Regions from separate parts of the Homo sapiens genome. Here all the other regions are linked to region 1. Evidence: fine-mapped QTL for protein levels in blood plasma. A gene starts in region 1. Each other region holds a variant in brackets. All regions are shown on one strand. Distances are between the middles of the regions.

Region 1 (6,677 bases):
GACAGAAGGAGGACATGATGTTGTAGAGGGAAAAGCTTCTATTCACAAGCAGCCATATGCTTGCAGAACAAAGACGCAAGGTGGTCCCCGAGTTGCCATGAAGGGAAATATCACGAGTTAGGGTTCCGAGAGTAGCTGTTTAATGGAGAGAGGATATTTGGATGTAATGAGGAGAAGCATCGAAAAGAATGGAGTGTGGGAGCATCAGTAGTGATTAAAGAGAGGATGCAGAGGAGAACTGAAGCAAGACATTCATATTTAATTTGGGAAGAACTTCTGACTTGAATGGCATTACTATTGTTCCCAGCGGAGATTCTGTAGCTGCCAGACATATCAAGTATTATCAATTGTCCTTGTTTCTACATAATACTACCCCCTCTTCCTTCACTTACTCCTCAATTCACCTGCCCAACAAACATCTGGTAAATATCTCCCATCCACAGGCACGTTCACATCCTTAGCTCCTCCTCCATGGGACGCTCTCCTTTGTCACTTCCCTGCCAGCTCCACCATTCAGTTCACGATGCCTCTGATGTTCCCAGCTCGGGGTAGTGGTGACCTACTCACCTACATTGAAGGGAGAGGAGTTGGCCAGCAGGGTCTTGGCAAAGCGGACGGCTATCGGCAAGGTCGCCTCAGAGTTCTTCTGGCACAGTGCCAAGATCGCTAGACTGGGCCCATAGAAGGCTGATGCTTCAGCGTTGGGGCCTCCGAAGGGGATAGAGAACCTTCATCAGACTCACAGTCACCACGATGAGGACATTTGCAAAGAAGGAAAAGCCAAGCCTTTGAAAAGGAAATTGCTAGAAAACCTGCCCCCAAAGAGAGACACAGCATAGGCAAAGAGCAACTTCAGTGTTTTTCAAAAGAATGTCATCAGGCATCTGCAAAGAATAAAAGGGATGACTCTGTGTCTTTAGACAGGTGATGGCTGGACAAGCTTGTGTCCTTGGGATCATGACCTTTTCTAGTTCATTTTGGATTGGAAATGAATCTTTCTGGTCTGGATTATCAGAAGGACCAGAGTGAAGGATACATTGTCTCTTCCCTAACTTGCCTTTCTCTCCACCCCCACCCTTTTCCTTTCTGGGTTTAAAATTCTTAGGTAAAACCATATGCCTGACTCTTTTCTCCCTTCCAGTCAGGTCTTACTGGAAGGTGCCCAGTTCTCCATTTGTCTTTGTAGAATGGATACTTTATCCCCAGGGTCTCGGCAGGAGGAGGTGAGGGCCATGATGGTGAGGCCGAGCTGCCCAATGGTTAGATCTGCAGAGAAGAGAACACAACGGTTAGACAGAGACATCCTCAGGGGACAGCTCTCCAGGAGCCAGTGATGAGTTCTCTGCTTTTTATCTAGAGCATTTTGACTTTTTAATAATATGAGCAGTTCTTTGATCTGTCTTTCCAAAGAAAAAAATATGGAAGAATACGTAAGGGAATATTTAATCTAGTGGCCTCTGTGTAACTTGATGACTCTAGTATTTGGTATTTGAGAATCCCTGGTATTTGATTAGAAAAGCAGCAAAATACTCATATAGATTTATATACAGAAATTTACAGTTGCAAAATAATTTAAACTTTATCTAACTTGAGCCTGCAGGCAGCTCCTGGGAGATAGGCAGAACAGAGATTTTATTATTATTATCATTGCTATTAGTAGTAGTAGGGTTATTGTTACTACAATCATCTGCAAGGTGAGGCTGAGCAGTATCCAGTGACTTGTCTCAGATCCCAGAGTTATGACGTGGCAGAGCCAGAACCAGAAGGCTGCTCTTTCGACGTCTAGTCCAGAGCTCTCCCTGCTTTACTGACCTCCTCCATGAATGCTCTGACTTCACACATGTTTCTTTCCAGGTACCTTCCAGGTATGTAAGGAAAGGTGTTTGGGTAGTTTATTTACAGTCAGAGGCAGCATTGGGGTGGGAAGGACGCTGAGTTGGAATCTGGAGGTGGTATGTGATGTGTGAGATTCAGGGAGAGTGCGAGCGGCTCAGATGTCTCACCGTTGTTGTCGCTGGACATGAGCTGGTAAGTCAGGAGCTTCTGGGCCTTCAAGTTGTAGGCTCCGGCCAGATTCATGGCAATCAGGATGCTGGGGTTTGGGTAGGCTGATGAAGTCACCGAGTTCTCCATGAGTACTTGTATTCCATTGACCAAGGGCTCCTGTGCTGAGGGAACGGCTGAGAAGAGGAAAGCCATTTACTCACCTTCTAACCCTCATTCCTTCTCAAAAACATTATCCCCGTGTCTTTGATGCTTTTTCTTTCTTTCTTTTTTTTTTGAGACAGTGTTACTCTTGTTGCCCAGGCTAGAGTGCAATGGCACGATCTCGGCTCACTGCAAACTCTGCCTCCCAGGTTCAAGTGATTCTCCTGCCTCAGCTTCCTGAGTAGCTGGGATTACAGGTGTGCACCACCACGCCAGGCTAATTTTTGTATTTTTAGTAGAGATGGGGTTTCACCATGTTGGCCAGGGTAGTCTCGAATTTCTGACCTCAGGTAATCCACCCTTCTTGGCCTCCCAAAGTGCTGGGATTACAGGCGTGAGCCACCTCGCCTGGCCATCTTTGATGCCTTTTAGGAGAACACTTGATTAGCATTAGTGTCCTAAGTCACTAAAGAGAAATGGAGAAAATGGTGAGATTTTACTTTTGAGGACAATTAGTTTCTACATCTTCTCAAATAATCCATATCCTTAAGAAAGTGATTTTTAAATTTAGTAACTTCAAGCAATATGGCTCATGACATTTCTCATAGTTTCTATCACTTTCCTGGAAATCACTGATTTCCTTGCATTCATTTTTTTCCTTACTCTTTCATGAAGAGTATTAAAGATTTGGGATATAATTTATCCTCAGTGAGTACCAAAATCTCTCACTAGTATGTAGTGGTGTCTGGTCACAATAGCCACTGAGTGTCTGTCTTTGTACCATCAACCATTATTCCTGCAGTAGTACTTCCATCTCTATTATTTTTATTTATTGATTTTTTGAGACAGGGTGCTGCTGTGTCATCTAGGCTGGAGTGCAGTGGTGTGATTATAGCTCACTGCAGCCTCGACCTCCTGGGCTCAAGCGATTCTCCTACCTCAGCTTTCTGAGTAGCTGGGACCACAGGTGCATGCCACTGCGCCCAGCTAATTTTTTATTTTTATTTATTTATTTTTTTTGTAGAGATGGAGTCTCACCATGTTGCCCAGGCTGGTCTTGAACTCTTGGGCTCAAGCAATCCTCCTGCTTCAGTCTCCCAAAGTGCTGGGATTACAGGTGTGAGCCACTGCACCTGGCCCCATCTCTCTTAATAAAAAACATATAGACTTGTCTCTCAAAGAACTTATGCTATTAAGTCAGGAAGGATGAACAGCACACAATCACACTCAGACTTACCCATTTTGGAATTCCTATAGTGATTGCTATTTTCAACCACTCAGTGTCAGAGGTCACAGCCCCTTCCCCAGGGCAACTGCTTCCCTGACCTCCTTGGAAAAACATCATACTCACAGCATGAACTCTGGGTCTGGGTACTAGTCCCAGCTGTAGCCCAGAGAAGGCTCAGGAGGTAGAGGGCAAACCAGGCCATCTCACTCTCTCGTCTATGTCTCTCATCCACAGGTACCGCGATTTGCAAGTGGAATATTTCTTTACCTTCTCTTATATGTGCTTCCCTTTGTTAAATAATCTGTCCCCAACCCAGCCTCTCCTAACTGCCCCTGTGCTGACCTCTCCTTTCCTGATACAAGTAAGTAAATTTTCATTTGCTTATCTAAGTTTACCGACTATAGACCCTCCAAGGTGTCTGAAGGTGACTTCTAGGTTGCACAGTCATATGAGAAACCTGGGGCTGGGTATGCAGTGAAGGCAATGTTGAGAAAATGTCCTTTACCAAAGGCCTGGGTCAGACATCAGGAAGTTTGGATAATGTGCTAGTATCAACAAGACCTCTTCTAGCCCTTATTGTATCCAATCAGTTACCAGGCTGCTTTTTAGTAACTACTTCACTGGGATTTAGGCCATTCATAGGCATCAGCTCATTTTATGATCCTAGACACCTGCTTTACAACATGTCCTTTTAGGCTCTCAGGCAGGGATCTGCCAGGTGACATCTGGCTTTGTGAAATTAATGATGTCTACCTGGACCTGGATTCTAGCCTAGACTCTTTGAAGTTGTTTGACTTTAGGCAAGAAATGGACCTCGGTTTCCCAGAAATGGTTTTGTTTGATTTCTCTTTCCTTATCTGGAGATAAAAGCCATCTCAAACACCCAAAGCTTTCAGATATTATCTTTTAAAGTAAGTAATTAGAAAATGTGAGATCCATTAAGAATACATATTTCAGATGTGTAGCTACATTATAATGCAAATTATACTTCTTTATAAGGGAGAACTGAAAATGGTATGTTGAAATTATAAAGAAAGGAGTTTTGTTTGTTTTTTTCCTGCATGTAAAGTAGCTCATTTTAAGGGGATATTCTCCAGTGGCGCCCATCTTAGCATAAAAGTCAAAGCCCTTTTCATGACCTATAAGACCTTAGAAGATCTGGCTCCTGGTTTCCTTTCTGACCTCAGCTCCAGGCGTTTTCCCCTTTGCTCACACCGCTCCCATCACACAGAACTTCTTGTGCCCCTTGAACACATCAGCTACCTTTGCACATGATGTCCCCCTCAGCCCAGGACCCTCTTCTTTTAAATAGCCTCATGGTGGCTTCCTCACATCCTTCATGTCTCTGCTCAGAGGTAAGCTTTTAGAGACGCCTTCCCAGGCCACCCTACATAAGATCCTACATCCTCACCTCCACTGACACCCCTCATGCCCCTCGCCTGCTATAACTCATTGCCCTCTGTCGCACTAAGTGTGTGGTTGTTTATCGTTTGTTTATCTCCCTACTAGAATGTCTGCTCCACGAGGGAGGGGCTTTGTCTCTTTGGCTCACTGCTCTATCCTTAGCCCTTACAACACTACCTAGCTCACAGTAGAAATAAAATACTTTTTGAATGAGTGAATTAATGAGCAAATGTAAGACATGGGTAATAAAGCATTTTTTCCCCCTTGGGAAACATGGGTGAGTTTTGTGAGATGAGAGCACAGGGTACATACTGGGGTGTGCTGGACAACTTCTAACATGGCCCTGTGTTTTCACCTCCCGGTATTCATGCCTTGTGTAGTCCTCTTCCCTAGAGTGTGGGCTGGCCTGGGGCCACATTCTATTATAATGAATATAATGCAGCAAAGGTGATGGGATGTGGTTGCAAAAGACCGATTTCCCTCTTGCTTGCCTTCTCTCTCTTGCCCTTCCTGCTCTCATGAAGGCAGCTGCTAAGTGTGAGCTGCCTTATGGAGAAGCCCACATATGGCCCCTGAGAGTAGCCTCCAGCCGATATTCAGGGAGAAAAGAACCCTTCCCCAGTGAGCTTTGAGATGAAGGCAGCCCCAGCTGACATCTTGATTGCAGCCCTGGGAGAGACCCTCCTAAGCCAGAGGACCCATGTAAACCCTCCCTGGACTCCTGACCCACAGAAACTGTGGGATAATAAATGTTGTCTTAGGCCCCTAAGTTTTAAAGTCACTTGTTATGCAGCAATATATATCCAATACATGGTACATGGTGGAAGATGAGGCTGGAAAGACAGTTGGCATCTACTTGGTGGACAGCCTTGCATGCTGTGTGAAGGAGTAGGAGGCAGAATAATGGCACTGCCCACACACCGCCAAATGCCCATGCCCTAATCCCTGGAACTTGTGAACATGTTACGTGGGTTATATGGCCAGGAAGAATTAAAGATGCACATGGAATTAAGGTGGCTAATGAGCTGACTTTAAGAGAGGAAGGTTAGCTTGGATCATCTGGGTGGGCTCAATGTCATCACAGAGGTCCTTGTTAGTGGCAGAGGAAGGCAAGAGCGTTAGAATCAGAAAAGCAAATGTGATGTTAGAGGCAGAAGTCAGAATGATGCAATTGCTGGCTTTGTAGGTGGACAGGGGCCATGAGCCATGCAACGTGGGCAGCCTCCAGAAGCTGGAAAAGGCAAGGAAATGGATTCTTCTTCACAAGCTCTGTTACTAGGGGAGCCCTACGGAAATAGCTGGGAGGGCTTCTTATTTTCTTAAACTGTTGTTTTCCCTTAGCCTTTTTTTTTTTTTTAAGATTGTCCCTGTTCCTTTTTTTTCTTTTTTTTTTAATTATACTTTAAGTTTTAGGGTACATGTGCACAATGTGCAGGTTAGTTACATGTGTATACATGTGCCATGCTGGCGTGCTGCACCCGTTAACTCATCATTTAGCATTAGGTATATCTCCTAATGCTATCCCTCCCCCATCCCCCCACCCCACAACAGTCCCCAGAGTGTGATGTTCCCCTTCCTGTGTCCATGTGTTCTCATTGTTCAATTCCCATCTATGAGTGAGAACATGCGGTGTTTGGTTTTTTGTCCTTGCAATAGTTTACTGAGAATGATGATTTCCAATTTCATCCATGTGCCTACAAAGGACATGAACTCATCATTTTTTATGGCTGCATAGTATTCCATGGTGTATATGTGCCACATTTTCTTAATCCAGTCTATCATTGTTGGACACTTGGGTTGGTTCCAAGTCTTTGCTATTGTGAATAGTGCCACAATAAACATATGTGTGCATGTGTCTTTATAGCAGCATGATTTATAGTCCTTTGGGTATATACCC
Region 2 (6,677 bases), 800 kb before region 1:
CTATCTCAGCAGCCCTACAGATGGGAGAGGAGCCCACAGATGGGAGAGGAAGCTATTCTCCTGGCCAAGGTCCTGAGACAGTTTGACAGAAGCCTAGGCAGACTTGAGGCCGACTGCAGCTAGCACTGGCACTCGAAATGAAACCTCCCCTGTAGTCCCATGGATAGTTTTTTGTATAAACATAGAAATTGACCATTCTGGTCTTAAAGCTTGAAACTTTTATTTGTTTTCTATGAGTTTCATCCTTGGTAAAGGACCCCTAGGTCCCTCAAAAAGTATAAAAGAACTGAAATTCACCAGATGATTCCATCCAGATGATGGCACACCAGACCCCTCATACATTATGATTGCTTCCTTAGGTCTCCTGAGTTCCTGTTTTTCTACACATGGTTACTTTTCCTCCCTGCTATGTAAACTCATAATTTTAGCTGGTCAGGGAGATGGATTTGACACTGAACTACCATCTCCTCTCCTACAGCATCTGATTCAGCCTTCTCCCTTGGCAAGAATTGTTGATATGAATTGGTTTTCTGTGCAGTGAGCAGCTGGAGCTAGACCACACCCCTGGTGTTTCACTAACAGATTTTGATTCCCCAACCAGGAACACTTTGGCTCAGCTACCATGGGCGGGGAATCTCAAAGTCCTCCTAAGCAGCTGCTTACCCAATTTTGGCTAGAGATGAGTACCCTCTCTCTAGGGCCAGCCACAGCTGGCCCCAACCATGTTCCTGATTGCCTTGGGAGAACTGCCTTTGAAATTTGATATTTGCATCCAGATAGGTGACTCTCCTCTGTGGGCCCAGACAGAAAGATCTCCTCCTCACAGTTTGGGAAATTTTTAAAGGAATTTCCACTTGCAGGTTGAACAAGCCCAATTGATGAAGAGAGGGAAGTACCCTGACTATTTCAGTACGGACACTCTTAGGAGCTTGTTTGTCATTGTGTGTGTATCCAGGCAAGTGAGTGTCATTTGTGGGAACCAGACAGTGGGATCTGCTCCTCTCCATCTGAGAAATTCTGAAGGAATTTTTATTTCAGGTCGATTGAGCCCAACCAATGGAGAGAGGAAGCACCACAACTCTTTCACATCGTAGACTTTTGGGGCTTGTTTGATGCTGCAGCAGTTGGATTGTGTTTTAGTAATTGTTTGCATGTGTCTGATACAGTCATGGGAAATTCGAATTTGATAAACTGGTACTCTTTTGTGACACTGTTTGGCTCCAGTATAGTTTGGAATCTGGAGTTTGCTGTTGAATGGGAAAGTGGGATTTTGTGCTGCTGTTTTAAGCAGGGTCGGGCCAGGTTAATATGTGATGATCTCATGCGGTGCCGTTTTTGACCCCAGTGTTTTGGGAGTATAGGGAGTTTTGGCCTTTAAAAATCAAACTGCCACAGAAACTCATTTTATTTAAAATTTGTTTCACAGCCTTCCCTGGATTACCTATCAAGGCTAACAAAGTTCAGCCATGTGGACATGTTTGCAGACAGTTGAGACTGTATTACTATCTCATGGCTAGAGTTCCAAGGTAAAAGCTTTTGGATCTTTGTGTGTATATACATCTAGATGTGTTTATGTGTATGCACATGTATTACATTATATGTTGTGACTACCAAATTGGCTTATACATAAAAGAACACTCCTAGATTAAGTAAATAAGTCCAAAGTATTTTTTACATTCACGTTACTTAAGTAAATTTTTAAGAAGCTAGCATTAAAATTATTGTAAGATAAAAATAGAAATGTCTTCAGAATTGTCAGCATACATTTTTTCGGGGTTTTATGTTTGTCTCTGCTAGATATTTTGGGGCATCAGAGTGTGGCACAGAAAGTTATAAAACTATAACCAGTAGTTTGAGACCAGTCTGAAAAATGAAGACCCCCCCCCGCCCCACCATCTCTATAACATAAAAATAAGACAATTAGCCAGGCACATTGATTCATGCCTGCAGCTAGTCAGGAGACTGAGGTGAGAGGATGCTTGAGCCTGAAAGGTCAAGGTTGCAGTGACTCATGATCCAGCCACTGCACTCCAGCCTGGGTGACAGAGTGAGACCCTGTCAAAAAAGAAAAAGATAAGAGGCAGAGAATGACAATGGGGCACAGGAGCATTGCAGAGAAACTAGGGGAACAGTTGTAATTGTTAATACGATGGTCAGAGGAGGCCTCATTGAGCAAGTGGCTTTAAGGTGAAGATTTAAAGAGGGTAATAAGGTTTTCTATAGGTATAATGAGAAAACAGAATGCAAGCAGAAGAAAAAGGACAGCAAAGTGCCTGAAGCAGAGAAGGCAAAGAGATTGAAGTCAGGGACATGACTGGAGGGATGTCAGGGAGGTGACTGGATTCTAAGTCATGGAGAACTTAGAGGGCTGTTATAAGACTTTTATATATCTTTCTCTGAATGAGATTGGGAGTGACAGCAGGACTTGCACAACGAATAACAAAATGTGGCTTTTGTTTTAAAAGGAGTGTTCTGGTTTTACATAGAGAAAAGACTAAAGACATTCTCCATCCAGAAAAGACTGCCAAGAACTCTGAAGCATCTAAAAGTTTACAGGGGCACAGATGCAGAAATGCTGGCAGATGACACAAGCTTCCAGGTAAAGGCAGGATTTTATATGCCTTCAACAGGCAGAATGATTTATATGTTTGTGTCAGTCATCTTTGCTCCACAAGTCCTACAGAGGAAATACAGGAAGGCAGATTAATGTCACAAATTCAATAGATGTGTGTTGCAGCAAAACTGCCTTCTGCTTCAGAAGAAAGCAGTATCTCCAGCTTCCAAGCTGTACTCTTTACAAACATCCTTGAAAGGATAGGAGCAAAGGCTGTCAATGTCTCTGCTCCTAAGACATGCAGAAATGTGAGAGGCCATGAAGACTTTTCTCCCAACCAGAATGAGCAGAATGTCATAATGGATTGGATGTAAAGTGGGAGGGGAAAAGATACTTAAGAATAATTCCAA[G/T]AGTTTTTATTTGAATAGGTGAAAAGGTGGAGTTGCCATCAACTTAATTGAGAAAGACTACAGGTGAAGTAGGCTGGGTGGAGAGGGTGGATAAGGAGTTTGATCTGAGACATAATGAGTTTGAGATGGCTATTGGGTGGAATCCAAGAGATATCAAACAGGCTATTGGATACATATGTCTTGAGTTTGGAAAAGAGTTTTAATAGTAATATAAATGTATTAGTCATTGGCAAGCAGATTGATTTTAAAGCCATGGGAACAGATGTGATTACTAGGGAGTAAGTGTGGATACAAATGAAGGCCAATGATTGAACTCTAAAGTGATGCAAAATTAAGAAGTTGGGGAGAAAAGAAGGGTCCACAGAGGAGACTGAGAAATAACCAGTGAAGTTAAAGGAAAAGAAGAGAGTGTGTTTTCTCGGAAACCAAGTGAAGAAAGTCTTAAAGAATGATCTATTAAGAACAGAAGCAATAATTGACCACTGGATTTAATAACATAGAGATCACTGATGGATTTAAAAAATGTTTCAGTAAAATGGTAGCAGCAAAAACCCAGTTAGATAAGATTAGGGGGAGGATTGGAAATAGCATTTGTAGACAATCCTTTCAATGAATTTTGCTACAGAGTGTTAAAGCAAACTAAATATGGTCTGAGAAGGACTCTGTGCTTCATTTGAGCCCTTGTGGGTGTAGAGTAACCTAGCTTAATAGACAAAATTGAAAACCTAATTTAGGAGTCTGCACCTGTAACAATATTTGAATGCTGGCCAGTCCCAGCAGCCTTACATCACCACTCATAGACTGCTGAATGCTCAAACTGTGTTTAAATAAGGCAAACGCCCAGGTGACAGAAATCTCACTGTTTCTGTAACTCATTTCCGGTTCCTGGATGTCACTTTAACTTTTTTTCCCTATAAATTTGTTTTGACCACAAGGCACCCCTGGAAACTCTGTGAATCTGCTGTGATTCTGAAGGCTGCTGGATCGATGAATTGTTCATTGCTCAACTAATCTCCTTTAAATTTAAGTCAGCTGAAGTTTTTATTTTATCAGATTGTGTCAGAAGCAGAATCTGAAGTGGAGCTTCTAGTATCCCCAGGAGCACTGAGTAAACACAGAAGGTACCTGCGGGATCCACTTGTGTCCACTGATCTCTCAGAGCAGCTGAGGATCAAAGGTAAGCTCCCTCTTGCATTTTGGAGCTTCACACATTTGTGTTTTGAGCTCTCTGAGTTTCCTTGTGCAAATTTGTGATCCAAACTGGTTTTGGAGTTGCAACAGAAAATGGACTGGGTCTAGGAATGAATTTGATCTGGGAATTAACTGGCTTGGATCCACTTAGAGGCCACTAACAGTAGAGGCCACTAACAGCTGACTGGGTCATAAAGGAAGTGGTAGTAAGCAGTAATGTCGCAGCAGTCATAAAATTCGGCTTTGGGAAATTCACAGGGATTTTTGTGTTCTACCCATTTGTTTCATTTTTCTTGTGTACCTAGATAGGAAAATTCATTGGTTAAGTTAATCAAAAGAACCTGAGAGTAAAGTCAGTATTTTATGTAAAACTGGAATCCTTAATTTCTGAAAAACTGAGTTCTTTCTGGCTTATACATTAGGACTGGAAGGCAGAGAAGTCTTACACAAATGGCAAAATCTTACTAAAGATAACTTAGAGTGGAACATTCCAAATGAAAAACAATGCATTGAACTACATTTAAAAATGAGGGCTCTCAGTAAAGTCCCTTTTGGCTAAGAACCGGTTTGGCACTATAGAATGTCAACTGTTATACTCTTTGGCACATTTGTAAGAATTCCAAGTGTTAGGCCGGGCGCGGTGGCTCACGCCTGTAATCCCAGCACTTTGGGAGGCCGAGGCGGGTGGATCATGAGGTCAGGAGATCGAGACCATCCTGGCTAACAAGGTGAAACCCCGTCTCTACTAAAAATACAAAAAATTAGCCGGGCGCGGTGGCGGGCGCCTGTAGTCCCAGCTACTCGGGAGGCTGAGGCAGGAGAATGGCGTGAACCCGGGAAGCGGAGCTTGCAGTGAGCCGAGATTGCGCCACTGCAGTCCGCAGTCCGACCTGGGCGACAGAGCGAGACTCCGTCTCAAAAAAAAAAAAAAAAAAAAAAAAAAAAAGAATTCCAAGTGTTATTTCAAAGGAAATTTACAGATATGTTTCCAAATTTTCTATGCTTTTTTCTTATTTTTGTAATGAAACTGGGAAAAATTTCAAAATGGTTATAGATCTGAAATATTTGGCCCTAAGAAACTAAAGAAAATCTTTGCCAACTCCTGCTCTGAGGTTTCCAGTCACAACTGTTCTTAGATATTTCCTATTCCAGAAGAAAGAAGACTCTTCAGGCATCTGATGACCAAAATAAAAGAAACATTATGATGGTGGTGGTGGAGTGTTCTGCTACAGGCATGTGGGAGGCTCACAGAACTCTTAATATTCACTTTTAATTCATTCCACCAGAGAGGAAATGCATGGGTTTTGGATAGGACTCTGTCATTTATCCCTGTAAGAACTTGAGAAATTTATTTAGTCTCTCTAAGCTTTGGCGTATTCAAAATGAAGACGATACTAACAGTACCTACATCATGAGTGTTACTTGAATGGAGATGTGTAAAGTGCATTTTAATTTCATCTGGTCCTTTAACATTTTCCCTTCACTTCTCTTCAGAGTTTTTTCTTGAAGGGCTCGAGGACTGAAGCATCCCACAAAATGATTCTATTGAATAATTCTGAGCAGCTGCTGGCCCTATTCAAATCTTTAGCAAGGAGCATTCCTGAGTCCCTGAAGGTGAAGGAACAGTGGGAGGTTGGGGTATGGGAGTAGGGGTGTTGAGGATGAGAAAATAACAGGCCCAAGAATCTCGTCCTTCCTGACTTTGTGCAGAGGGTTGGAGCTGGGAAACAGGATGGGGTTGGGGACAAAGGAGGCATGTTAAGAGCTGCTGCTTCTCCTCGGCAACAGGCAACTAGGCCGACTCTGCAGATTTTATCACTCATTTGGAGAGGTGGTGAAGAATGGTGGCTACGAACATCGGTTTGGGGCCAGATTCAATAAATATGCATTGCAAGGCTGCCATTTTTTAGTCAGATATCATTGTGCCTGTGTCTTTAGCTTTCTATGCCTTTATCTTTGGTCTTTTCATTAATAAAATGGGAATAATATTAGTAGCCACCTATTAAAGTTGTTGTGGACACTGAATGAATCCATACAATATAAGTGCTAAGTGCATTGTCAAGTGCCCAGCTACTGCACAGTAGCTCTGTGGTATCACAAGGACACCTCCCTGGGAGTTCTGCCTGTTTGCTGGTGACTTCACGTCCATCAGTATGGTCCTGGAGATGCTGCTCATCACACTATCACCAACTTGGTCCCAGTGCTGTCTCCTGACTTCCATTTTTCTCTTCCTCTTCACATACAGACCCCCATCTCTGGGGATCTCAACCTCTCCTATTCCCTTTCATCCCTCCTTCAGGTGTATGGCTCTCTGTTTCACATCAATCACGGGAACCCCTTCAACATGGAGGTGTTGGTGGACTCCTGGCCCGGGTATCAGATGGTTATTATCCGACCTCAAAAACAGGTAGGCACACAGACAGGGACTGGTGGAGCCAGGCAGGTCCAAAGGGCCTGAGGAACTGTCCAATTCAGACACCATGGCTGCTTTCATAGGGTGAAAGGAAATGTGAGTATTTTAA
Region 3 (5,000 bases), 240 kb before region 1:
ACTGCTCACCATTTCTTGCACACAGATTTCTGGCACAGTCTGGAGTAGAGTGCAGATCACAGCTCACTGCAGCCTCAACCTCGTCGGGCTCAGGTGATCCTCCTACCTTAGCCCCGCTGAGCAGTTGGGACTACAGTTATGTACCACCATGGCCGACTAATTTTTGTATTTTGTAGAGATGGAATTTTGCCTTGTTACCCAGACTAGTATCGAACTCACGGACTCAAGTGATCTACCCATCTCAGCCTCCCAAAGTGTTGGGATTACAGGCATGAGCCACTGTGCCCAGTCGTGGACACAGATTTCTTTCAGGCCTACATACCTCAGCATATGCTATTCACTCTACCTAGAATGTCCATCCCTATCCCCTGTTTCTAAGAAAGGGCAAATCTTTCTTTAAGATCTATGGCAAATGCTACTTTGTGACATCTCCCCACCAGTCTCATAAGCAGCCAGTCTCTTCTCTACATTTCCACTGCATTTTGCACAAACTTCTATTTTACACATGCACAGCAGTATCGTGACTGATTTTCTATCTCTCCAGATGGATCACATGCAATTTAAAAACACATTTTTGAGTTTATTCATATATAGATCTCCAGCTCCTAATTTAGTTGCTCTGTACATAATAGGGATCTGATAAAGTTTGCTTAATAAATAAATAAAGGAAGGAGGCAAGCAACGTAAGCTTAAAAATCTATTCCCTGTTACAGAGAAGCTAAAAGGTAAACAGGATATTTACTCCCATGGTTTCAACCACTGCCTATAGGCTAATGGCTACTAAATCACTAATTCTAGCCCAGCACTTACTGAGATTCAGAATAGAATATCCAACTCCCTATTCAACGGCTCAAAGTAACTTCAAAATTAATGCATCCCAAAGTGAACTCATCACCTTCAGTTTTTTTTTTTTTTTTTTTTTTTTTGAGACATGTTCTTGCTCTGTCACCCAGGTTGGAGTGCAGTGGCACAATCATGGCTCACTGCAGCCTCAACCTCACAAGTTCAAGTGATCCTCCTACCTGAGCCTCCCAAGTAGCTGGGACTACAGGCATGAGCCACAATGCCCAGCTAATTTTTGTAGTTAATATAGAGGTGGGATTCTGCCATGTTGCTCAGGCTAATCTTTCAACTCCCAGGCTCAAGTGATCCACACCTGGGACTACAGGTGTGAGGCACCACACCCAGCCTCATCAGTTTCCTATGTTGTCTCTGCTTTTCCCTTTGATGTTCCCCAATCCAACTTTCAGGGCCCTCCCAGTTGTCCAAGCCAGAAAATTAAGGGGCATCCTTCTCTTACTTTTGCTTCCTTCCTCACAGCCAGTTATCAAGTCCTATTGATTCTTCTTTAATATTTTAAAAATCTGTACATGTCTTTCCATCCTCCTTACTCAGAAACAGTACAGAGTGCATACTCTGGAGTTGGACCGGTAGGGCTCAAATCACAGATCCATCCCACTATCTAGCTGTACAAATAAGGGTAAGTTATTTAACCTCTCTGTGCCTCATCTTCCTTTTCCATAAACAAATAGTAACAATAGAGTAACTACCTCAAAGAGTCGTTGTTTTACATGTAAGCACTTAGAACCACATTAGGCTCACAATAAACATTCAATAAGGTGTTAGTTATTATAATTATAAGCTGGGCATGGTAGCTCACGTATGTAAAACACTTTGGAAGGCCAAGACAGAAGGAGTACCTGAGACCAGGAGTTTAAGATCAGCCTGGACAACATACAAGACCCCATCTCTATATAAAAATTAAAAAAAGATATAAAAATTTAAAAAAGAGGCTGGGTATAGTGGCTTACACCTTTAATCCCAGCACTTTGGGAGGCCGAGGCAGGCAAATCACCTGAGGTTAGGTGTCCGAGACCAGCCTGGCCAACATAGTGAAACCCCATCTCTACTAAAAATACAAAAATTAGCCAGGCATGGTGATGTGCGCCTGTAGTCCCAGCTACTTGGGAGGATGAGGTAGAAGAATTGCTTGAACCCAAGAGGCGGAGGTTACAGTGAACCAAGA[T/C]TGTGCACTGCACTCCAGCCTGGGTGACAAAGCAAGACTCTGTCTCAAAAAAAAAGTTGAGTGTAGCAGCTCTGCCTGTAGTCCCAGCTACTCAGAAGGCTGAGGAGTGAGACTCACTTGAGCCTGGGTGCTCAAGGCTGCAGTGAGCTATGATGGTGCCACTGCACTCCAGCCTGGGTGAGAGAGCAATACTCTGTCTCTAAAAAAAAAAGAAAAAGGCCGAGCACAGTGGCTCATGTCTGTAATCCCAGCACTTTGGGAGGCCTAGGCAGGTGGATCACAAGGTCAGGAGTTCAAGACCAGCCTGGCCAAGATGGTGAAACCCCATCTCCACTAAAAACACAAAAAATTAGTCGGGTGTGGTAGTGTGCGCCTGTAGTCCCAGCTACTTGGGAGGCTGAGGCAGAAGAACTGCTTGAACCCGGGAGGCGGAGGTTACAGTGAGCTGAGATCACACTATTGCACTCCAGCCTGGGTGACAAAGCGAGACTCTGTCTCAAAAAAAAAGAAAAAAATTATGACTGCATCCAAATTGGTCTCATCTTCTAATCCACTACTACCAAGCTTAGTTGGTATGATCTGCAGCCCTTTCTCTCCCCCACAATTAACTCCTCCCAAGCCTCATGCTAGCTGCTTCCTTGCTCGACTAACAGTCAATTACCAGCAGTTCCCAGACTTTGGGGAAAGGGATAGATCTGAATATCCCATACCACTACCTGGATCAAAGCTTCTCCCTCATTCCCTTTTATTTCATTTATTTATTTATTTATTTTTGAGACAGAGTCTCGCTCTGTCACCCAGGCTACAGAGTGCAGTGCTACGATCTCAGCTCACTGCAACCTCCGCCTCCTGGGTTCAAGTGATTCTCATGCCTCAGTCACCATGTCTGGCTAATTTTTTTATTTCTTTTAGTAGAGATGGGGGTTTCACCATGTTGGCCAGGCTGGTCTCGAACTCCTGACCTCAGGTGATCCACTCGACTCGGCCTCACAAAGTGCTGGGATTACAGGTGTGAGGCACCATGCCTGGCCTCATTCCCTTTTAGTAATACTGACTGTAATTAAAATTTGCCAGAGACAATCATATGTCAGGCACTTTGCCGAGCACTTCACATCAATTATCTGACAAAAGCCTTTCAACAAGCCTTTGAAGTATCTGCTAGTATCATTACCATTTACAGATAAGGAATTGATGTCACAGAGGATGCAGGTTGCCCCAAGTTATACACATAGGTCATAGAGGCAGTTGGACGGGATGCAGGTTGCCTCAAGTTACAGAGATAGGTCATGAAGGCAGTTGGACTCCAGGCCCCAAGCTCTAGCTTGCCTTTCTTCATAGGAAGACTCTCACTGCTCCTTCAGAATTTAGTTGAGGAAATTAGAGAAATTTCCTAGTCTGAGCCAAATACTTCCAAAGTGCTATACCATAGCAGCCTGTGCTCATTTCTATCAAGTCACTCAACATAGTCCATAATGATCCCTTTAATTCTCCATCCCTCACTAAATAGTGATCTTCCTGAGGACACGGACCATATCTGCCCTCAGCAATATCCACTAGCACAGTTCGTGGAACACAGCTCATGCTCAATAGATGGCAGATGAATATACTAAAAGTGTCAAATTTAATTCTCTGATCAGATTCACTTTGACAGTTAGAAAAGCTCTATCCTAAGCAGTCAAGAAACTGAAACGGCCATAAAAAAAAAACAATATCATGTCCTTTGCAGCAACATGAATGCAACTGGAGGCCAATATCCTAACTGAATTAATGCAGACACAGAAAAAAAAAAAAAACACATCTTCTCACTTATAAGTGGGAGCTAAACATTGGGTACACACCAACACAAAGACAGAAACAATAAACACTAGGGATTCCAAAAGTGGGGAGGAAGAGAACCAAAGGTTGAAAAACTACCTGTTGCGTACTACGTTCACTACTTGGGCAATGGGATAATTAGAAGCCCAAACCTCAGCATCACGCAATATACCTATGTAACAAACCTGCACACGTGCCCCTTGAATCAAAAATTAAATTAATTTTTAAAGAAGTAATTGAGTGAAACATATTCTTCCTTTGATATAACTTTGCCCGTTTAGAGCTGTGATGCTCTAGCATGTTAATTTTTAACACGTGTATTATACTTAAGGCCTTGCTAGTATCATACTAAAAGGTACAAAGGAAACAACACAGGGATAAAAAATGTATTTTAAGCAATAACTGGCTAGGAAAAGGGCACAGGCAGTGCAGCAAGAGAGTAAAGAATGAAAACAGAACTCATCTCTGACTTCCAAGAGATCATTCCCTTTAACACAAACTCTGGACACTTAGAACTTAGGGAAGAATTTCCCCAAGGAACAAAGATGAGTACATTTTCAAGAGAAAAATTGAAACTAAAGGTTTAGGTTTATAAAGGGATGCTTTACTTAGCAAAATTTTTACATCAAGGTAAAAAAAAAATTATGGATTGGGGTGTTCCTCTGATTTGGATAAAAGGTGGCATTCACTCTCAGGAGACCATTGTGCCGAGTTGTTTTATTTAAAAAGTATACGTATTTACTATTTAATTGACTGTATGACTTAATGAGGTTTTCCTGATCACAAGGGGACTGGAAAACCAGGCACACAGTCTCCAGGAATACACGACCAGACATCAGAAACACAAGCACCCTGACTGGCTGACTGGTCAGTCCTAGGAGATAATCTTCCTGCAGTCCCTAAGTGGAGAATGTAATTTGTCTTTTTACTTTGTGTGAATCACAGCACTGAAGATAGTGTTAAACATATCAGAAAAATGATGTTAAAATAAAGGTTATCCAACTATCTATTAAGTAAGAAAGGGGTTAAATGAGAAAAACGATACTTTCCCATGGTCATGGGAAAGTCTGGCACTAGAGAGGTAATTTCATCCCATTTAATTAGGAAAAAAAAAATCTACCCTACATAATTTCTCACAGAGTACTCTTCTCACTTATGA
Region 4 (6,677 bases), 1.3 Mb after region 1:
TTTTTTTTTTTTTTTTTTTTTTTTTTTTTTTTAGATGGAGTCTTGTGCTGTCGCCCAGGCTGGAGTGCAGTGGCACAATCTCAGCTCACTGTAACCTCTACCTCCCGGGTTCAAGCAATTCTCCTGCCTCAGCCTCTTGAGGATTACAGGTGCCTGACACTAGCCTGGCTAATTTTTGTATTTTTAGTAGAGATGGGGGTTTCACCATGTTGGCCAAGCTGATCTTGAACTCCTGACCTCAAGTGATCCACCTGCCTCAGTGCTGGGATTACAGGTGTGAGCCATTGTGCCCAGCCAATTCTTTTTTTTTTCTGAGATGGAGTTTCGCTCTTGTTGCCCAGGCTGGAGTGCAATGGCACAATCTTGGCTCACGGCAACCTCCGCTTCCCGGGTTCAAGTGATTCTCCGGCCTCAGCCTCCCCAGTAGCTGGGATTACAGGCGTGCAACACCATGCCCAGCTAATTTTGTATTTTTAGTAGAGACAGAGTTTCTCCATGTTGGTCAGGCTGGTCTCGAACTCCTGACCTCAAATGATCCACCTGCCTCAGCCTCCCAAAGTGCTGGGATTACAGGCGTGAGCGACCACGCCCGGCCGATTCTTAATTTTTTTTTTTTTTTTTTGAGACGGAGTCTGGCTCTGTCGCCCAGGCTGGGGTGCAATGGCGCGATCTTGGCTCACTGCAAGCTCCGCCTTCCTGGGTTGACGCCATTCTCCTGCCTCAGCCTCCCGAGTAGCTGGGACTACAGGAGCCACCACCACGCCCGGCTAATTTTTTTATATTTTTAGTAGACACGGGGTTTCACCGTGCTAGCCAGAATGGTCTCGATCTCCTGACCTGGTGATCCACCCACCTCGGCCTCCCAAAGTGCTGGGATTACAGGCGTGAGCCACCGCACCCAGCCAATTCTTAATTTTTAATGAAGTTTTCATTTTAACTAGGCTACCTGGGTCTGACTAGTTTGGCATCTATTATCTTATTTTCCCCTTTCCCCAACACTCTGGGGGAACTCAGGGGGAGGCAACCCCATCTGACAGAGGAAAAGCAAAGACCCCAGGGGAGGAAGGGCCTTGTCACCCAGTCACCGCAGAAGCAGGAGGAGAACGCAGGCAGTGTTTTTTCTATAGGGTGAGCCCCCCCAGGACCCCAAGGGCACTTCCTAAGGCTTGGCTCTGTGTGGGCACGGCGGGACAGGTGACACCCAGGTGCACAAGACAGGGGTCTTCATGCCAGGATTTAGGCTTCAGATTTGCAGTGACGTGACAATGCACATCACAGAGGGAGGCAGCGTCACATACGGTCAAGACCAAGAGGCGGAACGTCACGGCCACAGCTCATGAGACGAGTGCCCAAGCTCTGGCCAGCTCGGCAGGGGAGATTCATGTGAAAACAGTGCCTGCCACGATGTCAAGCTTCTAACGGGCCAGGAGTCCCCCCTACACGGAGGCTGAGTCTGGGAAGGAGACCGGAGGCCTCCACCAAGCTGCTACCTCCTCTGCTCATGGGGCTCCCATTTCAGAAGGCACTGCTGGCATGTGCCAGACAAACATGTCCCAAATGAGGAGTGCTCAGGACCTTACTCCCAACTTTGCCAAATAGCTGGAGGCCAGATGTTCGTTTTGGGACTCAACTTTCCTTATCTGTAAAATGGGCAAACAAACCCTTACATGGCTCTTTTCTTCTGAAATCAAAGCCCTCTGTACTATCACACTGGTCTTTAATTGAAACAATAAATAAAGAGATCAAAGCCCTCTGTAAACTCTCCCGTTAATTTACATAACCTCTCTAGTATGTAAAGCCAGCATGAGCTTAAGTGCCTCCTATTTCAGAGATAAAATGAATCCCAGAAAGAAGCAGGAAGGACACTGCCCCACTGTGCGGGTGTTTTCATCTCACCAACATCTTTGCCCCACCTGCTCGGCAGGCCCATCAGAGGGGTGCAGTGAGGATAAGGTGTTTAGCCATAAGGCCCGAGATCCAGAGATTAGGAGCCCACGCAAGCACGCCAATTATCCCATCCCTCCCTGTCCCTGCCTCCGGGTTGGGGACGCCCACCTCACCGCCCTCATACAGCATCTCAGGCTGGGCAGGCAAGTGCCACCTTGTGGGGTTTACCACAGCATCACCCACCCCTGGAAATGACAGGTCCCTTTCTCTCACCAATGCCACAGCCATCACCTGCTCCTCAGAGCCATCAGCGAGGCTGGAAGCAGCAAGCACTTCCCTGGGTCCCTAATATGGAGAAGGGAGAACAGGAAACTCTTTTGCCCACAGCCCACAGAGCTGCTAAGAAGGTGCCCTTGAAGCTTGGTCATCCACTGCTGGTGGTGTCTGACTCCATCACCCAACGCAAGGGACAAGTCCAAAGTGACACTTCTCAGAGTGACCCCAGCCACCGCATATGTCTCAAAGTAGAGAACTAGGGGGTTCCTGAGATGTCCTTCGGGGACCCAGAGTCCATGGGCTTTTGTTTCTGGAGGGTGTGACGAGTCCAACTACCTGGGCCCCTCAGTACCAGAGCCCTGGCCCAGAGCCCCTCCCCCTGCCAAGATGCCCGGGAGGATGCAGCACTGCTCTAGTGACCCCCAGGGTTTGCTGCGCACGAGTAGGGAGTTGTTGAGGGTGAGAATAAATCGACCCCTTGAAGACAAGGAGAATGTCTCACTCATCTTCGTCAACCCAAGCCCAGCAGACTGGCTGTCAGATAGCTCACAATAACGTTTGCCCAAAAAGTGATGGAGACAGGAAGGAGAGAACAAGTCACTGAAGACGTGGGGACAGAGAACGGGCATTCTTCCCCTTACCCCCGCCTGCTCGCATTTCTCCACTCCCTTAATGAATCAATACTTATGAAGCAATTGCATTTGCCAAGAATACTGTGAGACCCACATCAAAGGAGGAAGGATAAATGGGGGCAGCAGGATGTGAGCAAATATTTGGGGGGTTCTTACTATGAGCCAGACATGGCATTCACAGGTAAGAGCTGATCCTAACTCTCAAGTAACTCAGTTTCATTTTAAAAAGTCAAAAATACTCACAATAATTCATCATGAATACAGATGAGAGCAGCGTAACAGAGGCAGAGACCAACAGAGTGAGGAGGAGAGATGGGCCGCTCTGTGGGCCTGGAAAGCTTGGCCACAGGGGCCTGCGCATGCCATGCCAGGAGCAGCACAGCCCAGGCGGGAGCCACTGCAGATCCAAGGGGCTGGGAGGGGAGGAGGAGGGAGGGCTGCGGGGCAGGCGGCTGCACAGGTTCACAGGTACAGCAGAAAACACCTTTTCTGGGGTGATAT[C/G]ATCAACTCGAAAGTGATCTGGCTGGGAGGGAACAAGGTGAGAAAGCTATGCGTGAGCCAGTCTGCGTTCCTTGCACAGAGAAGAGGAACAGTGCCCCTGGTTCCTCACTACCAGCCCCTGAGAAGGAAGAACACTTGCTTTTGTTTTTTCCTTTTGCTTTTTAAAGTTGTCTCTCTGCAGTTTTCACCCCCACCAGAGGTCCCAACCCCAGTGGCCTACAAAGGCCAGGCTGGTAGTAGGAGGCCAAGCGACAGGCAGAGTGTGTATGGCTGGAAAGCGGCCCTGGTGATTCTAGGCCCCTCCTGCAGCCTTGCCAGCTTTCCCAGACCCATCAGCTCTCCAAAGGGAAGCCAGAAATCTACATCTAGGTGCATCTTCCCATTTTTAAATTTCAACTCAAAGTTGTGAGAAACTGGGTGGGCCATCAAAACCCACAATTCAGGTGTGACCTGAATTGATGCCATATCCTCTATGGGAGACAAGTGCAAGGGTACAGATCACAGAAAAGGGGGTGGGGCAGAGGGGAGAGGTGATAAAGACATCCCACAAGAATCCTGGAGCCCCACCATTTGCCACAATGCACTGAAAGGAGGTTGGGGTGGGGGCACAGGCTGAACTCGCTGGAGCTTTGCTATCAGAACCAAGGAAGCAGCATTTCTGGGTGCAGCCGGACCAGCCAACTGGCACCTGTTGCTTTGATCTCTGGTCTCAACTTCTTTCCATTACTTTATATCTTGACTAAATCGATCCCACAGGTCTTGAGCACAGGGTACACGATCTGGTAAAAGATAGCACAGGGCCAGTGGATTTACGCCAAAGGCAGCGCCACGTCCCCAGCAAGGAGGCCACAGAACTTCCTAGCAGACCGGGGTGGAAGGGGAACTCTGGGGAGGGTTCAAACTTGGGGCAGCCTTCCAGATCTGTTTTTATCGGGGAAAAAAAAAGTCATGCAATGATGGTTTTCCTCAACAAGCTAATCAGCTCAAAAACAAATCGTTTCCACTGATCAGAGATCCTTTCCAAGGATAACCTTCAACAAAAAAAAAAAAGCTGGACTGCAAAATGCAGCATTTTCTAGACAGTGAGGGCACTGAGATGAGAGTGTGGCATGCCAGCCCTAGAGACAACTTGCACTGCCCCTCACCCCTTGCCGCTAAGTGGTTCATGCCAACTCTCCCCCCAGATTGTGTGTCTGGACAGAATTCTGTCCTGTGCAGACATGGAATTTGAAAACAGATGCCTTGAGTTTGTGCTTTGGCTCCACAGCTCTTTAACTGTGTGACCTTAATCAAGTCCTTTAACCTTGGTTTCCTTAATGGGGCACCATGATGATAATCCCACCTTAGGGGTTGCTGTGTGGCTCAGATAAGCGAACAGCCCAAAAAGAGCTTTGCAAACTCCTGAGCACTGAACAAATATAAATTATTCCACCTCCTGGCGTTACTCCTGCAACCCCTGGGCTGCAATCTTGTGTCAAGTGAAATGGCTGCTGAGATCGTGCAGGAGGATTCCAGCCTCCACCAGCTCCAGCACCTGGGAGCTGAAGCACGGCTCCCAGCACTCCCCTCGCCTTACCAGACAACACTTACTTGCCAGTGACCTCTAGCCCGAAATCACACTGCAAGAAGAGCTGTGACGTCCCTTGGTTTCTTACAAATTCCCCACATCCACCTATGGTACCAGAAGAAGCTGTTACCAGGGCAACTTGCAAAGTCCAACCTGCACATGTTAAAAAGGAACTGGCCCCATCTTACCCCGTATGTCAGAAACACCTGCTGTTGCCTTAGAAACCTTCCTAATCATGCTGCTGAATGAGGAAATATTTGCAGGCCTAATCTGGTTTTCTTTTCCCGGAATGATTCCAGCTGTGCGTCCAAGTACCAGACTCTTTTGTTTCCTGACTTCCCACAGGAGGTTAAAAAAAAAAAAAAAAAAATCAAATCATCAAGTTCTTCTCACCTGATCCAAAGCAGCACTGAACTGACTTTCCCCACAAGTGGAAAAGTTACAGTGTAAACCATGGAGAGGAAGGCGTTTTTAGTTTTCATTTTTTTGCGTTTTTAGTTTTCTTTTTTTTCTTTTAAGAGATGAAGGACTCGCTCTGTCACTCTGTTGCCCAGGCTAGAGTGCAGGGACGCAAAAGTAGCTCACTTCACAGCCTCAAACTCTTGGGCTCAAGCAATCCACCTCACTTCCCAAGTAGCTGGGAGTCCAGGCCTGTGCCACTGCCCCCAGATGGCTTTCATCCTTTCTAAGGAATTGCTGGGGTTGGGGCTGGGTTGGGGTTGGAGATTCCTCCCACCCACCAGGGATAAATAGTTAAGACTACGTGAAGAGGGGCCAGGCGCGGTGGCTCACGCCTGTAATCCCAGCACTTTGGGAGGCCAAGGCGGGCGGACCACGAGGTCAGGAGATCAAGACCATCCTAGCTAACATGGTGAAACCCCATATTTATCTACTAAAAATACAAAAAAGTTAGCTGGGCGTGGTGGCACACGCCTGTAGTCCCAGCTACTCAGGAGGCTGAGGCAGGAGAATGGCGTGAACCCAGGAGACGGAGCTTGCAGTGAGCCGAGATCGCGCCACTGCATCCCAGCCTCGGCGACAGAGCGAGACTCCATCTCAAAGTAAACAAACAAACAAAAAAGACTAAGTGAAGAGGCTTTGGAGATAAAAACTCCTAGATTTCAATCCCATCCTGACCTTTCACTAGCTATATCACCATGGGCACATTATTCAGCCTTTCTCTGTTTCTCATTTGTAAAATGGGGCTAATACTACCAACATCATGGGGTTGTAAGGATTAAATGAGAATTAAACAAGACCACCAAGCAGCAGGTCTGGCACCAGGCAGTATTAATTCCCACTCCCTCACAACTTATTGTTAGGAAATGCTGCCTGTCAACTGTGCCAGGCGGCCAGCTAGGTCTAGAACCAGAGGACTCTGAAAGAGCTGATCCTGGACGGAAGCAAAGGATGTGGCTCCAAACAAGCTCCAAACCAATCTAGACAAGAGTCCTCAAACATAAGCATACATAGGGGGAATGTACAATCTCTCATAGGGAAATTGCTTCATGAAGGAAACTGTCATCTTTACATAAATATTTACATAACAACTGAATGCTCCTCAATCCACTGAAAAACTCCATCTGACCCCCCTTTGTCCAGAGGCAGGGCCGTCAAGTGAGAAGACTCAAGAATAATAAGCCCATTCACTGTGCCAAATGGTGGGAGGCACCCAGAGTGGCAGAAGACTTCAGGAAATTAAGCCACTCAGCCGGCTGGGAGGCTCTATCAGCACGCGGCAGGCTGCAGAGCCCAGCACTCACACCCTGCCCCCTAGGTCGCTGGCTTGGCTTTGCTGACCCAGTCCGTCCCCT
Region 5 (6,677 bases), 1.3 Mb after region 1:
TATAGGGAAAGCAAAAGAGAAACCTTCTTATTGTGAAATTGGGTGTTGCTTGTTACTGCAGCATATACTGCCCATGCTGACTAATATCATGCATCAACTGGGCCCATGACCCTTACCATCTAACCTTACCAGGTGACTTACAATCCTTTAGGTCTATTATCATGCCAGTGCTGCCCTCTTTGGTGTTCCCTCCTCCCCATGCCCATTTGGCAAAGTTCTCTCATCCACTGAGACTCGGCTCAGTTGCCACCTCCACTAGGGAGACTTCCTAACTTTCCACCTAAGGCAGCATTGGGCATCCTCTTTGCAGGATGCCCAGGGCATGCCTCTATTGCAGTGCTGCCACATTACCTTTCTAAATGTTTTGTTTCCTGGACTTCAGGGCCACTGCTAGCCCATTTGGAGCCTTCGTTAGATTCAGAAAAAGCTGGCCTCCTCCAGGTGGCTGCAGCTGCCCAGGTGCATGGCTCAGCAGTGAATCATGACCTGACTTCAGGTCTTCTTCCCCCATGGCCTGACACCTGTGTTCTGGGCACAAATTGTACAATGTCCTCCATGGCCCTGTCTGCAAGGCTATTCATAAACAGCGAGCAATTTATGAACTTGGCTTCGAGCACCCTCAAGTGTTCACTGAAAGAATGAATATTTCCTAATAGATGAGACCTGTCCTCAATTATCCCTTCCTCCTCCCACCCGTCCTCTCCTCCTTTTGTTCTGCCTCATTTCCTGACCTCCCAAGCCCAGTACTAATGAGCTGCAGAGTGGCCAAGAGCCTAGAATTTGTAGTCAGACAGACCTAGTTCAAATCTTGACTCTACCACTTACTTGCCATAAATCCTTGAGGAAGTTACTTAGCTCCTCTAAGCCTCAGTTTCCTCATCTATAAATTGGAGACATTATCAGCTTCACAGGGCGCCCACAAAGAGCACATGGGAAAAGGCGTTCAATAGGTGTCTCCAGGGCTCCTCCAAGTCAGGCTCTACAGCTGGGAGACCAGAGTGGCCATGGAAGGCATCACTGAGGAGGGAACATTGAGATGATGGCTGAATAGCCATCCACGCAGAAAGCTGGGAGAAGAACCTTCTGGACAGGGAGAACAGGAATTGCAAAGGCCCAAGGTAACCAAGTTCAATAAAAGGCTACTTTTCCATCTCCAGTCTTCCGTCCACACCTGAACACACCATCGTCAACCAGGCCATCGAGGCCACAAGTTACACACCATGACCTCATCACACACTTGATTTGTTGACTCGGAGCAAGTTACCAGCAATGAATTATCAACCCCTTTCCCAGAATGGCAAGCCCTGGGGCTATGTGCAAACTGAGGCGGGAAAATAAGAGGTGTCAATAGAGCTGAGTTTGCTCTGGGCCCAGGGCCATGTAGATAAGCTGGTTATCATCACCAGCTCCAGCTCCAAGAGGCACAGTGGGTGCCACTGCCACCACCAGGAACCCTGGGGTTTGCTTGTCCTCCTGCTGGAACGCCCAGCACACCCACAGGGCCAAGAGGAAAGTAAACGCTCTTGACTAATCTCCCCCAGTGCTATCACAGGGGCCCCCCGAAGGTGGCTGCTCCTTTGGCAGAGTCTGGTTCTTCCATTCCTTCTTGGAAGATGGCCATGGGGCATCAGCACCTGACCATGATGTCTGGTGGCTAGAATTCAACTTGAAATCAGTTGAGACCCAAGTAATGCCCAGGCTTTCCCGGTGGGTTTTCCTTGCTCCATTCTTTGTCTCCATACAGTGAAGCCCCCAGAAAGCATCAGTTGTTCATCCCTCATCAGGGCCTTCAAAGTTCCAAGGTCTTTCTTGAGCCTCAGAGAGGCAACAAGTCCTTGAATGCACCCTTGTCTGACCCTCCCAACTCAGCCAAGAATCCCCTAAAGATGAAATAGAACATTGGGTTTCAATTGTCGAAGTCTGACCAGAAGATGTTCCTTACTCTAAATACAGGCCAGTGTCACACCAACTTACAAGGGTCAGTGTGTTATGAACAAGGAGGGGAAGCTGTGGGGCTGCCAAGCTGGGCACAAGTCAAGCACTAACCGGCACCACTGCCTCCTGCTTCCTGGTGCCACTCCAGCCGGGGCTGCCCCCACTGTGTCTGGCAGCTTCCAATATTGCTTTCCTGCTGCCATAAGATGGCAGGTCTGGCAACAGAACTGGAGCCGGACTTAAGGAGAAAGAGGAAGGAACTTCAGCTCTGGCACCTGCAGACCCCCGAAAGTGACCTACGGAAGCTGGCAGCAGGGACTGCAATTGAGCATTCTCTCACCTTTCCCTTCTCAGAGCTCCCCAAGCCTATGCCCAGGTGGGAAGAGGATTACCTGAGAGCCAGAAGCCCCGGGTCCCAGCACTTCACTAACCTACCTTGCATCCCTTCTGTAAATTATACACCCCAGCTCTCAGTTTCCCCATCTCCGGGATAACAGACTGGACTTGTCCAAGAATAGCAATCATTCCCAATCCAGTGCCGACGCTGGTTGCTAGAACACGTGGCTGAAGGGATTGTATGTTGCTCGGGATTCTGGGGCCACATCCAGTGGTAGGGGGTGCTGTGGTTCGCTGGCAATATCTGCCTTGGACTCAGAATGGAGCATGGTAGACCAGGTGCCACGTCACTGACATGCAGGAGCTAAAGGACCTTTGCACTCCTGCCCAATGGAACATTCCAGCACTTGGATTCTGTGGGATGAGATCTGACAGCCATAAGGCAGAAGTTACCAACTGGGAAGCTCATGGATTCTTCAACAGAAACTCGAGTCAGGCTGATGAATTACCTTTACTAAAGGAATGAATAACAATAAAAAAAATTCTAGGTCCAAGACGTGCCAAGAAAGGTTAGATATATTGGACAATATTTTAAAAGGAGAGATGTTTTGGGTGACCTGCTATTTTGCTGTCCAGCTTGAGATGATGCCAATGGCCACAGAGTAATAAAAGGGCCACTGAATATGGCCTCGTTCCCATGGCTCACCAGCAGTAAGCATCTCTACCACCTCCATGTCTGGAGCAGGAATTCCAGCAGGAAGGACGCAGCCTCCAGAACCATTTGACCAGAAGATCCAAGTGCGACTGGACTGCTGGTAGGTACCACAGAAATCCTAGCTCTCTCCTCCCCACAGCTGGCTGTTCTCTGTTTAAACTTGACTCACTGCATATGTCCC[G/A]CTGCCACAGGAGGCCCTTTTCCAATATCTTGTTCCGCTCTGCAGACCCTCTGTTCACGCCCCTGGGCTTCTCTCCCATCCCAGTCTGTCTTGCATCCTGTGCAAGCTGCCCTCCTCTCTGTTATTTAGTTATGAATCCCTCCTCCCTTCCCTTCAAAACACCTCCACTGCTTCAGTCTTTGGCTCCCTCCCTATCCGGGCCCCTGCCCCTTCCCTACAGATGATACTAAAGCAGACAAAGCCAGGGAGGGAGACCCCCATTTTGTTGTTTCTAAAAATGTTCTCATCCTTTCCACTTCCAGGCCCTGATACGGCTCCTCAAAGTCTCAAGCTGATGATCAGACAACCTCGAGGGGTAGTGGTGGGAGACAGCAGGACGAGGGCCGGAGCCGTGGGCAGGGGAGGCTCAGGAGCAACTCAGCCAGTGTGGGGCCCACCCAGGTCGGCCTTGCTTGGGACCCTTGGGATACCACTAAAGACAGAAACTTCAAAATGGAAATGTTTTCAACTTATTACAAAAAAGGTTCAAACATAAAAGTAAAAATGAATAGTGTCATGGACCTCATATTCCATCACTCAGCATCAAGAATTACACTGTTTCTGCAAATCCTTGTTTTATATACACACTCCCCCCTTTTTTTTTTCTTTGTCTCACTTTGTTGCCCAGGCTGGAGTGGACTGGCGTGATCCCGGCTCACTGCAGCCTCCGCCTCCCAGGTTCAAGCGATTCTCATGCCTCAGCCTCCTGAGTAGCTGGGATTACAGGCATGCATCAACACACCCAGATAATTTTTGTATTTTTCGTAGAGACAGAGTTTCACCATGTTGGCCAGGCTGGTCTCAAACTCCTGGCCTCAAGCAATCTACCTGCCTCAGCCTCCCAAAGTGCTGGGATTATAGGCATGAGCTACCGCACCTGGCGACACTCTTACTTTTTAAAAATTTTATTCTTTATATATTTATATTTGCTGTAATATTTTAAGGCATACAGCTTACCATTTCACTGTAAATACTTTATTGTACATTTCTAGGAGATAAGGGTCATATTATATATATATATATATATACACAGCTGTAATTAATATATATATTCAAATATATATATTTATAGCGGCAATGCTCTCTTATTCCAAACAAAACTACCAACTTTTCTTTTAATTACCAATTTTAATATCACCTAATAACCAGTCCATGTTCAAATTTATTTGATTCTCTCAAAAATGCCTTTTAACAGTTGATATATTCAGATCCAGGATCAAGATCTTGAGGTTATCCGCATGTGTTGCATTTGGTGGCTGTTTCTTAAGACTTTTAATGGGCTGGGCGCGGTGGCTTACACCTGTAATCCAAGCACTTTGGGAGGCTGAGGCGGGCAGACCACAAGGTCAGGAGTTTGAGACCAGCCTGGCCAACATGGTAAAACCCATCTCTACTGAAAATACAAAAATTAGCCAGGCGTGGTGGCAGGCACCAGTAATCCCAGCTACTTGGGAGGCTGAGGCAGGAGCATCGCTTGAACCCAGGAGGCGGAGGTTGCAGTGAGCCAAGATTGCACCACTGCACTCCAGCCTGGGCAACAAGAGCGAAACTCCATCTCAAAAAAAAAAAAAGACTTTTAGTAGATAGCAGTCCCCCTTTATATGCCATTAATTTATTTATAAAGTAAGTGTATGGGCCTGTTAGAATGGCCAAAATCCAGAACACTGAGAACACCAAATCCTGGTGAGAATGTGGAGCAACAGAAACTCTCATTCGTTGCTGGTAGGAATGCAAAATGGCACAGACACTTTAAAAGACAGCTTGGCAGTTTGTTATAAAATTAAACATACTCTTGCCATATTACCCATCAGTCACACTGCTTGGATTTACTCAGAGGAGTTGAAAATTTATACCCACACGAAAACCTGCATATGACTATTTATAGCAGCTTTATAATTGTCAAAGCTTGGAAGAAACTAAGATGCCCTTCAGTGAGTGAATAAGAAGATAAACTGTACTCCATCCAGACAATGGATTATTATTAAGCACTAAAAAGAAATGAGCAATCGGCTGGGCACGGTGGCTCACACCTGTAATCCCAGCACTTTGGGAGACCGAGTCAGGTGGATCCATCAAGCTCAGGAGTTCAAGACCAGCCTGGGCAACATGGCGAAACCCCATCTCTACAAAAAATATATATAGAGAAAAATTAGCTAGGCATACTGGTGTGTACCTGTAGTCCCAGCTACTTGGGAGACTGAAGTGGGAGGATGGCTTGAGCCTCGGAGGCAGAGGTTGCAGTGAGCCAAGATGGTACCATTGCACTCCAGCCTGGGCAACAGAATGAGACCCTGTCTCAAAAAATAAAAACGAAAATAAAAATTAAAAAAAGAAAGAAATGAGCTACCAAGCCATGAAAAGGAGGAAACTTAAGTGCATATCACTAAGTGAAAAAAGCCAGTCTTAAAAATGTATATGTGAATACATAATAGTTGTACACATTTATGGGGTACACGGGATATTTTGATTTCAAGTATGCAGTGCGTAATGATCAAATCTGGGTAATTAGTCTATCTAGCTTGGCTGCTGCGAATAGTGCTGCGATAAAAACAGGAGTGCAGATATCTCGTCAATAGACTAATTTCCTTTCTTTCTTTTTCTTTTTTTTTTTTTTTTAGACGGAGTTTTGCTCTTGTTGCCTAGGCTGGAGTGCAATGGCACGATCTCGGCTCATGGCAACCTCCACCTCCCGGGTTCAAGCAATTCTCCTGCCTCGGCCTCCTGAGCAGCTGGGACTACAGGCATGTGCCACCATGCCCGGCTAATTTTTTTTGTATTATTAGTAGAGACGGGGTTTCTCCATGTTGGTCAGGCTGATCTCGAACTCCCAACCTCAGGTGATCCACCCACCTCAGACTCCAAAGTGCTGGGATTACAGGCGTGAGCCACCGTGCCCGGCCGACTAATTTCCTTTCTTTCGGATATATATACCCAGCAGTGGGATTGCTGGATCATATGATAGTTCTATCTTTAGTTTTTTGAAAAATCTGCATTCTGTTTTCCACAGAGGCTGTACTCATTTAAATTTCCACCAACAGTGAATGAGCATTCCTCTTTCTTGGTCTCCTCACCAGCATCTGTTATCTTCTGTCTTTTTGATGACAGCTATTTAACTGGGGTGAGATGATAACTCACTGTGATTTTAATTGGCATTTCCCTGATCATTACGAATGTTGAGTCTTTTTTTCTCCACCCGTTGTCCATTTGTATCCTCCTTTGAGAAGTGTCTATTCAGATCTTTTGCCCATTTTTAATCAAATTATTTGTTTCTTTGCTATTAAGTTGTTTGAGTTCTTTATATATTCCTGGTTGTTATTCCCTTGTTGGATGAATAGTTTGTAAATATTTTCTCCCATTCTGTGGGTTGTCTCTTCACCTTGTTGATTGTTTTCTTTGCTGTGCACAACCTTTTGGCTTGATTTACATCCCATTTGTTAATTTTTGCTTTGTTTGCCTGTGTTTTTAAGGTCT

Alleles and levels. Positions count from the first base shown, and alleles are read on the strand shown. Strength reflects both the effect of a copy and how common the allele is.
For the plasma level of the protein whose gene starts at base 3,624 in region 1, G is the high allele of the variant in region 2 and T is the other (moderate association).
In carriers of allele C in region 3, the plasma level of the protein whose gene starts at base 3,624 in region 1 tends to be lower than with T alone (moderate association).
As copies of C replace G in region 4, the plasma level of the protein whose gene starts at base 3,624 in region 1 goes up (moderate association).
For the plasma level of the protein whose gene starts at base 3,624 in region 1, allele G in region 5 goes with a lower level than allele A (moderate association).

What was found. PIP is the chance, under the fine-mapping model, that this variant and not a neighbour inherited with it causes the effect. Protein levels are from antibody-based Olink assays in UK Biobank. Linkage for the fine-mapping came from a reference panel and not from the study's own genotypes, which makes the PIPs less certain.
Region 2: its variant is fine-mapped to the plasma level of the CBLIF protein (UK Biobank, PIP above 0.99).
Region 3: its variant is fine-mapped to the plasma level of the CBLIF protein (UK Biobank, PIP above 0.99).
Region 4: its variant is fine-mapped to the plasma level of the CBLIF protein (UK Biobank, PIP above 0.99).
Region 5: its variant is fine-mapped to the plasma level of the CBLIF protein (UK Biobank, PIP above 0.99).

What each region holds. Positions count from the first base shown.
Region 1 is chr11:59,841,876-59,848,552 of GRCh38, forward strand. It overlaps CBLIF (cobalamin binding intrinsic factor), which reads right to left and starts at 3,624. Exons shown (of 9, transcript NM_005142.3): 1 at 3,500-3,624; 2 at 2,004-2,180; 3 at 1,153-1,266; 4 at 568-708. The coding sequence starts at 3,578.
Region 2 is chr11:59,037,046-59,043,722 of GRCh38, forward strand. The region is part of intron 3 of GLYATL1-AS1 (GLYATL1 antisense RNA 1); the gene reads right to left. It also overlaps the pseudogene GLYATL1P4. Among named protein-coding and RNA genes, the nearest start is that of GLYATL1-AS1, 18 kb to the right of the region's middle. The variant G/T (reference allele first, on the strand shown) is at 2,965.
Region 3 is chr11:59,602,629-59,607,628 of GRCh38, forward strand. All of the region lies in intron 3 of OSBP (oxysterol binding protein), which reads right to left. Among named protein-coding and RNA genes, the nearest start is that of MIR3162, 10 kb to the left of the region's middle. The variant T/C (reference allele first, on the strand shown) is at 2,027.
Region 4 is chr11:61,143,365-61,150,041 of GRCh38, forward strand. The region is part of intron 1 of VPS37C (VPS37C subunit of ESCRT-I); the gene reads right to left. Among named protein-coding and RNA genes, the nearest start is that of VPS37C, 15 kb to the right of the region's middle. The variant C/G (reference allele first, on the strand shown) is at 3,297.
Region 5 is chr11:61,173,082-61,179,758 of GRCh38, forward strand. It overlaps LOC124902678 (a long non-coding RNA gene), which reads left to right and starts at 1,758. Exons shown (of 4, transcript XR_007062691.1): 1 at 1,758-3,086. The variant G/A (reference allele first, on the strand shown) is at 3,168.